3 linked regions of the Homo sapiens genome follow. The protein of the gene in region 3 purifies or fractionates together with the protein of the main gene of each other region. This does not show direct contact. Each region holds a gene or a part of one and is shown on either strand. Other genes may lie near its edges.

Evidence for each region.
Region 1: the proteins of CNTN2 (region 3) and RTCA purify together in Homo sapiens (affinity purification with mass spectrometry; one large-scale study listed by BioGRID and IntAct). This does not show direct contact.
Region 2: the proteins of CNTN2 (region 3) and CSPG4 purify together in Homo sapiens (affinity purification with mass spectrometry; one large-scale study listed by BioGRID and IntAct). This does not show direct contact.

Annotation. Positions count from the first base shown.
Region 1 is NC_000001.11:100,286,716-100,290,215, reverse strand, and holds part of RTCA (RNA 3'-terminal phosphate cyclase), read right to left. Parts: intron 3,118-3,500; coding exon 3,013-3,117; intron 1-3,012.
Region 2 is NC_000015.10:75,710,049-75,714,291, forward strand, and holds the start of CSPG4 (chondroitin sulfate proteoglycan 4 precursor), read right to left. Parts: upstream 2,801-4,243; 5' UTR 2,708-2,800; coding exon 2,620-2,707; intron 1-2,619. UniProt on the Homo sapiens protein: Proteoglycan playing a role in cell proliferation and migration which stimulates endothelial cells motility during microvascular morphogenesis. May also inhibit neurite outgrowth and growth cone collapse during axon regeneration.
Region 3 is NC_000001.11:205,076,501-205,078,789, reverse strand, and holds the end of CNTN2 (contactin-2 precursor), read right to left. Parts: 3' UTR 501-2,289; downstream 1-500. UniProt on the Homo sapiens protein: In conjunction with another transmembrane protein, CNTNAP2, contributes to the organization of axonal domains at nodes of Ranvier by maintaining voltage-gated potassium channels at the juxtaparanodal region. May be involved in cell adhesion.

The sequences.
Region 1 (3,500 bases), about 100 Mb from region 3:
AAAATCTTAGGATTCTTGGAAGCACAATTTGAAAACCATCACTTGGGGGCCTTACTGAATGAATAGTAATGTTTAAAAATTCTTTCACTTTCAGCATTACATGGTAATGTACTGACACAGAGTGGACACTTGAAATTACTGTTGAATGAATAAATGCTGAATTCTGAGCTAGGTAACCATATTAATTAATTAGTAATATATGCATGCGTTTATATATTTTTCAAATTACAAGCATTATGTAAATATGAAACACACGTAGCAGCTATGAAAATCATTTCTAGCCTATACATAAACCTACTTAAAACTACAAATATGTAGACCTGAAAGGAGCATAGCAGGCCTATCTAGCTTAAGTCTGATTTTACAGATAACTATTTGCATTGAGACAAAGAAAGATAAGAAACTTGCCCCAAGTCACCCAGTTATACACAACAAAGCTGACCAAGATACAAGCTATACACAGGTTCATAGCACTTTCCGTTATGTATACATTTCAAATAACAAGTAAGCATCTACTATATGTAAAGTACTGTGAAAAGTAAAGAATATAATGAATAAAACCTGATCTCTGCTATTAAGGAGATCAATCTATAAGGAGAGACAGACAAGTAATAGTTATAAATACAGCATAAGTAGAGTAACAAAAAAAATAGAGTTAACACTCTTGACATCAAATACAATTTGCCTTTAATTCCCATCAGTCTTTCCTACAATTTAACAAAAACTTATCTATGTTTCTTAATAACAATTAAAAGTATACATAATTAAGAATCAAACTGGGCACAGTAGCTCACAGCTGTAATCACGGCATTTGGGAAGCTGAGGTGGGAGGATCACTTGAGCCCAGGAGTTCAGGACCAGCCTGGGCAACACAGGGAGATCCCGTCTCTCAAAAAACAAAAACAAAAACAAAAAAAAAATTAGCAGGGTGTGGTGGTGCACAGCTGCAGTCCTAGCTACTTGATAGGCTGAGGTGAAAGGATCACTTGAGCCCAGGAGTTCGGGGCTACTGTGAGCTATGATACTGCCATTGTAATCTAGCCTGGGCAACAGAGCAAGCCCCTGTCTCTTAAAAGAAAAAAAAAAAAGAAAGGCCAGGCGCGGTGGCTCATGCCTGTAATCCCTGCACTTTGGGAGGCCAAGGCAGGCAGATCGCGTAAGGCCAGGAGTTTGAGACCAGCCTAGCTAACACAGTGAAACCCTGTCTCTGCTAAAAAGTACAAAAATTAGCTGGACATGGTGGCACACGCCTGTAATCCCAGCTACTCTGGAGGCTGAGGCATGAGAATTGCTTGAACCTGGGAGGCAGAGGTTGCTGTGAGCCAAGACTGTGCCACTGCACTCCAACCTGGGCTAACAGAGCAAGACTCTATCTTAAGAAAAAAAAAAAGAAAAGAAAAAGGATCATCATACAAATAGGAGTAGGGCAGCAACAGTGGTTTTGTGTATGGGACACTTCTGTAATGATTAATTTTTTAAATTAATATATGTTACTTTTGTCACTTTAAAAAATGCTTAAGACTAGGGCTGGGCATGCTGGCTTACACCTGTAATCCTAGCGCTTTGGGAGATTGAGGTCAGAGGACTGCTTGAGCCCAGGAGTTCAAGACCAGCCTGGGAATGTGGCAAGACTCCATCTCTACAAAACATCAAAAAATTAGCCAGGTGTGGTGGCACACTCCCGTAGCCCCAGCTACTTGGGAGGCTGCGGTGGGAGGATCATTTGAGAGCCCAGGAGGTTTGTGCCACTGCAATCCAGCCTGGGCAACAGTGTGAGACCCTGTCTCAAAAACAATAATAATAAAAATGCTTAAGATTAGCAACTTCCCTTATAAAATTGTTACAAATTTTATATTTCTTTATAAAATTACTTTATAAAGAATAAGCAAAATGGGAAATATGCTACATGTTACTGAAATAAGCAAGAAATGAAGTTGTATGCATTAACTGCAAAAAATGCAAAGAGAAACGATTTAGGAGAAGAGGAAAACACCTAAATGTCAACAGTGGTTTTACCGGCAAGGGGAAATTATGAGAAGGCTTTTCCCCTCTATTTCCTATAAAGAAATTACATTAGTTTCATGATGAAATATACCTATTGTTTCTTTAAATTAACAATCCAGGCCAGGCACAGTGGCTCACACCTATAATCACAACACTTTGGGAGGCCAAGGTGGACAGATCACCTGAGCTATGAAGTTTGAGACCAGCCTAAGCAACATGGCAAAACCCCATCTCTACAAAAATTAGAAAAATTAGCCAGGTGTGGTGGCATGTGCCTGTAATCCTAGCTACTTGGGAGGCTAAGGCAGGAGAATCACTTGAGCCTGGGAGGCAGAAGTTGCAGTGAGCCGAGATCATGCCATTGCACTCCAGCCTGGGCAACAGTGTGAGACCCTGTCTCAAAAAAAAAAAAAAAAAGAATCCTGTAGGAAAGGTATGAATATGAGCTCATATAATGATAAATCCTTCTTCATTAAAAACTGTACGTCAACTCTACTAAATTTCAGAGGACAGTGAATATTAGTTTCAACAAATATTCTATTTTACCAATAGAATCAAGAAAATAAAATGTCTAAAATTTTATATAAATTTTTTTATAGCCAACTATGAATCCCTTGTGATTTGATATCATAGTTCACAACAAAACATCTTTACTTACTCTGTAAGGCAGTACCACACAGTGATTATAACATGGGTTTTGAAGTATGCTTTCCCAGGTTTGCTCAAAGCTCAGCTCTGCCACTAAAAATCCATGTGGCCTTGAACAATTTAATGAATCTCTCTGCCTCACTTTACTCATATTTATAATGGGAATAATAATAAATAGCCACCTACAATAGTTATGCTGAGTAGACAGTTTAGATAAATTGCTAAATTAGCTCAGTGCCTGTCACACAGGAAACAGTGATAGCAATTATGATTACTATTAAGTTTCCTATTAAAATTTAACCCAAAATTGGCTAAAATAAAAATCAAAATATCAATTTCCCTTTCTGATAGAATACTCACCTTTGCTATTTGTTCAGCAAAATGTATCGCGGTTTGCGTATGGAGTGTAACTGGTCCTGTTTTTATTCTGGAAACTCCATTGGCTAATGCCATGAAAACAATCAGCTATTTAAAAAAGAACAAAGAAAAACCTCACACATTTATTAATATTTGGCATTATAATTCCACTGCTGCCCATAATAAAAATACTACTAGAAATAAAAATTGCTAAAACAGAATTTCTATTTCTTTAGGTTTCCAGACATACTCAGAAGATGACAGAAAACCTATGTTACCCTAAGTCTGTGAGTAGTACAAAAAGGCTTGGTAGCAGCTCTCAACATATAATTTTTTAAATTAATATTTACAAGTAAAATACAGAACAGTAATATACTTAGACCAACTATCTCTACAAGTTGGTATATATAATATGATGTTTATTCTACTCTCTTAAATTACATTTTAACAGCTGAATAGACAGACTAATACTGGGACTTTACTGGGAGTTT
Region 2 (4,243 bases), on a different chromosome or scaffold from region 3:
AGGATCTACCCTGCTTCAATTTCTTGTACCTGGTGTCCCTGTGGCCCTGCTCACTAAGATACCCCCATCAGTTCTGAGTCCCCACCCAGGTAACACACAAGCCCTCCCTGCCAGGTACTCCCCAACCTGGGTCCCACTTCAACCCCTCACATTCTGCCTTTCAGTCAGTGATGCCAGGGAAGAGGTGTGGGAGCCACCACCCCTGCCTGCCCTGTGCTCACTGTGACCCCCCGACTAGAATGTCACCTCCTTCCTTCTCTGCCTGTCCTTCCAGTATCAGCTCAAATCCAATCTCCCCCAATGCTTGGCTCTCTGCTGGGGCCTCCCATACAGCTCAGAAGGAGCTGGACACCGCATCTGTCACCCACACTGTCTCAGTGGCCCAAGCCTAGGCCCCGACGCAGGCTGGGAGCACCCTCGAAGCAGGGCTGGGGGCTCTTCCTGGGCTGCTGGGGTTCTTGGTGGAACTCAGAGTACTTTTCTTCCTCTCTGGGGCCTCAGTTTCCCTCTCTATACAAGTGGAAGATTGGCCCAGATGGCCTCTAGGGTGCTGACTGCCAGGCCCCCTGACCTGGATGCCTCAAATGTTGATGAGTAGAGGGAGAGCCTCCCAGCACGCCTCATTCGGATACGGGAGGACGAGGGCCTTTGCAGCCAGGGGCATCCAGGAGGGGTGGGAGGGACGCCTTCCTCAGGCAGGGGCTGCCCCTACTGCAGAAATCAGGGCAGGCAGCTGGACCAGGAGTGGTGACAGAGATGGGTTGCTGGACGGGAGCTCTCACAGCCCCTCCTCATTTCCGAGTCCTCCTAAAGGCAGGGGATGGTGTAACTTTATAAAACCCCACAGCACCATGCTGCTCTCTTGCCCTAAAACCCTTGTGGCATCTCCTTTGCCAACAGGGCATAAGGCCGTGGGCTTCATTTTGCCATTTAAGGCTTCTGTGCCCCAGCCCAGTGGTTCTCCCTGGCCTGTGCTCGAAATACGCCTCCCAGCCAGGCTGCTGGCCTTCCTGTCTCAACACCCCTCTGCTTACGCCCACCTTGGTGCCTCTGAGTCAGCGCCCCTGCCTGGAGGACTGACTCCCTTCCCATCCACCAAGGCTTGGTTTGAGGCCCACCCTGTGTCCTGCCCCAGCTTGCCCCTGCTTTTCTCCCCTCTGTACTTTTCATCCAGATTTTTGCTGTTTGAGATTTAATTTGCCTTTCTGCCTCCTGAATGAGTCTCAGTTCAGCCTCTCAATTTCCCGTGCCCCTGCGAGCCTAGCACCATGCCTGCATGCTGTCAGGGCTAAGAAGGTATTTGAGAATGGCTCTCAGTTGAAGCCCAAGGAGGTGGGGGTACTGGAATCCCTCCTTGGCTGGAGGCTGGGGCCTGAATGAGCTGACCACCCTGGTCACCTTGGATGCTCCCTTCCCATCTCCCTGGCGGCCCAGCCCATCCCTCAGGCCCTGAGATCTTAGGGGATCTGGTCCCTGCAGGAACAGGGAGCCTGGAGATCCAGCCCTGATTCACCCCGCGGGGGTCCTCCCTTGACTCACTTCCCTTCTGGGAACCATGTGATGCCCTCTTTTAGAGCTGGCTTCTCCATCTGAAGGAGAGAAGGGTGTGGCCTGGGCCCTTGTGAAGGAGGCTCAGGCCCTGCCTTTGCTCCATGTTGCTCTTGGGAATGATCTCGAAGGTGTAGCTGAAGCACTGAATCACACGTGGGTAGTGATGATGGATGGGCCCTAAGGCCACAGTTCTTATGGCATAACTAGAGCTGCCTTCGCTGAAGGAAGAATGCTGTCATGTTGGGGTTTCTGGCATCGGGACAGAGAGGGGATATATCCCAGCACTTCTCGGAAAGCGAACTTCCATTCAGCCTCTGCTGGGTCAGGCATCAGTGCTGGGATGAGGAGGTGTGGCAGGGGGTGGTCCAGAGCTATCTGTAGGACAAGCCCCGCTGAGGGGCACCAGCTCTCCCTCTAGGAGGCTGAGAGTGGGTAGTGGGTGGGGGGTCCTGCCTGTCACCAACAGGAGGAGGGAGAGGAGAGAATGAAGAGGGGAGGTGGCAGATAGACGGATCTGCAAGGAAGCAAGGGGAGGAAAGAAGGGGCAGAGCTGGGGGGCAGCTGGAGGGGTGTGGGGGTGCTCCTCACAGGGGAGGGCAGGGTGGCTCATTCCTCGTTTCCCACCTTGTAGCACTCCCCATTCCTGGCCCAGGGCATCTGAAGCTGGAGGACCCACTTCTCACTGTCGCCGGGTCCCTTTGGACCCCAACATACTCACCCCAAACTTGCCTGGCAAACAAAGCTCGGCCAGCATTGGGGTGGCCCCACTGGTGTCTCAGACAATCCAAACGGGCAAAGCCACGCCCTAGGCAATCCATGCCTGGGGCGCCTGCTCCCGCCCCTAACTGGACAGCCTTGGCTAGCTAGAAACCCCATAACCTGAGATAGCGGGGTCCCGTGTCCGCCCCAGGATTGAACCCCTGGCGACCCCAGCTAGTGGTGGGAGAAGCGCAGCCTGCTTGACTCCCGATCTGGGGGCCACTTCTGGCTCCTCCTGTCCCTTTTCCCTCCCGGAGGAACCCCTCTAGTTCCGCCAGGCTGGGTCGGGGTCTCAGGCCCCTCACTCACCCGCGGATGCAAGTCTGGCCAACATAGTCAGGGTCAAAGCCAAGGCCAGGCCGGGGGCTGGAAGTGGGGGCCGCGGCCCGGACTGCATCCCGGCGGGCTGGGCGGCAGGACTTGCGAGGAGCCAGCGGAGTCCTGGGAGCTGGGAGCTGAGTGGAGCGAGCGCGGCTCTGCTCCTGGGCGCGGGCCGGCTCCGGGTGTCCGCGCACTTAACTCCGGGGGCGGGGCAGGCGCAGACCCGCGCGCCCGCTCGGGTTTCAGGCTTGGACTCCCCCACCTGCCCCCACCCTCAACCTTCTTAAAGGGCCCGTGCGGGGCTGTTCCTCTCTGGGGCAGGGGTGAGGGGGCCCTTGCAGCTGGGCCAGACCCCAGCCCCACCCTAAAGACTTAGAACAAAGTCATAGAGAGGCCCAGACACCCTGAACTCTGGCCCCAAGAGCCGAGCCCGGGAGACCCCCTCAGGGAGGAGGCATGAACTGTCCCAGCCCCTACTTCCCTCCTTTCTGCCTTTGCGGGAGTTCAGGAGACCCCTCCACAGGCACACTCCAGCCTTAGGAGGAAGGACAGACACCAGCCACCCTCACAGGCGGCTTTTGGGCTGCTTTGCCTCGGAGGTCCCCTAGGAACTTCTCCAGACTCCAGAGGCACCACCCGAGGTCCTGTGGGGCACTGCCCATGGCTGCAACAGTGACCTTCTCTGCCTGGAAGGGCCTCACCTCAGTCTCCCTGTCTGTAAGGGAGAGATGTCTGGATTTCCTCGCAGGGCAGAAGAATTCTCAGTCCCGCCATGACATTTGCCTCAAAATAACCTTGCAAGGTGGGTGAGGAGCATCCCCTCCCCCATTTCATGGAGGACGAAAGTGCAGCTCAAGCTGAAAGTGGCTCTTACAAGACTCCAGGTGGAAAGTAGGTCCCTGGCCGTTTGGTGCCAGAAGCCCAGGCCTCCTGACCCCTGAATCCGGGTGTTTCAACTTCCCGAGGCTGCCTCCTGGAAATCTGGCCCTGGATTTGGCTTCTACCTAACAGCTTCAGGCTGGGGCCCTTCTGCTGGCTCCCTTCCAGGCAGCAACATCAGCCTAGTCCCAAACAGGAGGAGAAAGGGCAATGTTACTTAGCTTCCGGTGCCTAGAGGATCTGCGTGTTCTCTGTCCAGTCCCAATGTTACCGGGCCTTGGTTTACTTCCTCCATTCAGGTCCCTCCATCTATCTGCTCCAGCCCATCTCCAGCCCAACCCCACCTTGCACCCTCTTCCCAGCTCTTCCCTTTGACCAGTAACAGCCCAGCACTTCATACTTTGCAACGAAACTGAGACCTGTTTTGCAGATGAAGAAACTGAGGCTGAGAGAGATTAAGGGACTGGAGCTAGTCTACATAGCTGCTGAGATGTGGGGCCAGGTCTTTGACCCTAAGTGCAGTGCTCAGGTGTGATGGTGCCTGGTCCATGTGGGGGTTATGAGTATTGGTCTTGAAACCAGAGAGACCTGGGTTCAAATCCCAGCTCCCTTACTTGGTTGTCAAACCTTGAACAAGTCCCCTCACCTCTCTGTGGCAGTTTCCTCATTTGTAAAATTGGGTTAATGAGGATTAAATGCTTTAATGTACCTCAAGTCCCTAGCCCAGGGCCTG
Region 3 (2,289 bases):
GCACGTGGCTCATGCCCATAATCCCAGCACTTTGGGAGGCCGAAGTGGGTGGATCACCTGAGGTCAGGAGTTGGAGACCAGCTTGGCCAACATGGTGAAACCCTGTCTCTACTAGAAAATACAAAAATTAGCCAGTTGTGGTGGCAGGTGCCTATAATCCCAGCTACTCAGGAGGCTGAAGCAGGAGAATCGCTTGAACCCAGGAGGTAGAGGTTGCAGCGAGCTGAGATTATGCCATTGCACTCCAGCCTGGGCGACAAGAGCGAAACTCTGTCTCAAAAAAAAAAAAGTTTGATAAATGGTTATCGAATGTGTGAGAAAGTGTGGCTGGAAAGTGACTAGTAATTCACACCCTTGTGGCTGCTGTGAACCAAGAGTAGAGGCAGCAGCCTCGTTCTCACCAGTTGGGTATCATTAATATATCTGCAGGGAGACTTTCCTTTGGGACCACTGAGTCAACACCTCAAAGATGTCTTAAAAATCAGGCCACCTTGAAGCAGTACCATCACATAAGCATTGTTTACTGCCACTGTATTAGGTAAAGCCAACTGATTCTAGCCAAATGCCTGCCTGTGCTCTGCTTGGACCTGCCTTAAGATCTTGGCCTAATTTTTCCCTCCTCCTGGGACTGGATGAAGCAATATAGACTGTATGTTGTAACTTACTTATATTTCACTGTGTGGGGGGTAAAGAAATTCTTGGATAAAAGCCTCTGGAGTGAAGAACAGGACAAGGAGGTATGCTTTAGCCTGATGATAACACCCACAGCTCGTGCCAGCTTCCCCAACAGGTTGAGAAACCATCTTTATTTAAGAACTGCCTGCTACCAGAGTCAATAAATAACTATCATTACAAGAAGTACAGGAGAGAAACAGTAGGCCAACGGGAGTGGTTCCATTTTAACAAACACTGAGTCAAGTCAGTGGTCTGATGAAGCCCTAGCATTTGCCAAGCTGTGAGCCTCTCTAAGCTGTGCAGGCCCTGGATGGGACGGGTAAGTTGGAGGAGTCTTGGGGCCGAGGCAAGATGTATCCCATCTAAGGGCACTAAGTGTCATAGGCCCCAAAGGCTGCCTGGGGCTGTGGCCAAAGCTATCTGACCCATTTTGTTTCTCTCATTTTCCTTTACGTCCTGTCTTCCCAAAGCCTATGACCATATACACAAGTCCACGGGTGTTCCGCAGCTACCAGGTGCCTGTTTCCATGGAGCTTTTTGGGGGCACACAGAAAAATGCCCACCTAATGCCTTTTATGCTAAGAGCCTCTCTGGCAATCCCCATCACATCCAGGAGGAAGCCTAGGGTGGGTGTCACCCAGGGAGACAGAGCACCACTGTCATGCCAGTGGCCACAGGTTTGAGGATACTGTGTCTCCCACCAATGAGCCAGTTGGCAGTCCCATTCTGAGACCAGGCAGAGAAAAGATTCCTCTGTAGCTGGGGAAGAGATTAAGGGAGTCAAACATTCCTAGCCATTTTGGGCTCTTGCCCAGAGTACAGGCTGGCTGGCCCTTGGGGCTGCCCTAAAGAGGCAGCATACGCTGGGATGAGCACTGGGCTGTAACCAGAATTCCTAGATGAGCCCCCTTAATGGCTTCCCATAAGGTGCAGGGCCACAGAAGGTGGGATCTCCAAGACTTCCTGGGCTGAACACTTTGATTCTAAGAGTCTCATCTCTGGATGGACACTTGGACCATCTCCTGCCCCTCCAGTCACAGCTTCACCTTTCCCAAATCCCATGTCAACAGCTGTCAAAATTCCTCAAAGCTCCCTCAGAAAGAAGCCTCTTCCTTATTCCAGGGCCTCCTGGAATGAGGAAGGTCATTCCAGAGGTTTTTTTCTGATGTTTAACCTCAGTCTCGTCTGTTGTTACTTTATGAAAAGAAAAAGACACCCCCACCTACCCCCATGGCCTTGCCACTCCCTGGCACCATTTGTATCATTTGTTGCCCTGAATGAAAGCAGATAACCTGACCTTGCTGGGCCCTGAGACTCTGTCTGGAGAGAGCTGCCTTCCCCCTGAGGCTGGGTGTACATCTGGACTGTTAGAGCAACAAGGACCAGAGAGCCAGGGCAAAGGGCTCTGTAAGGGGAGCCCAAATGTATGCAGAAGAGAGGACACTTGTCTCCCTAGGCCCTGGAGAGGTGCCTACAGTTGGTTCCTTTTCCTAGTCCCCAGGGTGTTTACTGGCCACTAAGCTGTGGGGTAAAGTACTTGTTTGTGGCTGTTCCTCTTGCCGCCTCCTCTGGGGCTTGATGTATGAGAGGAGATAACCCAGAACTGTGGTCTCA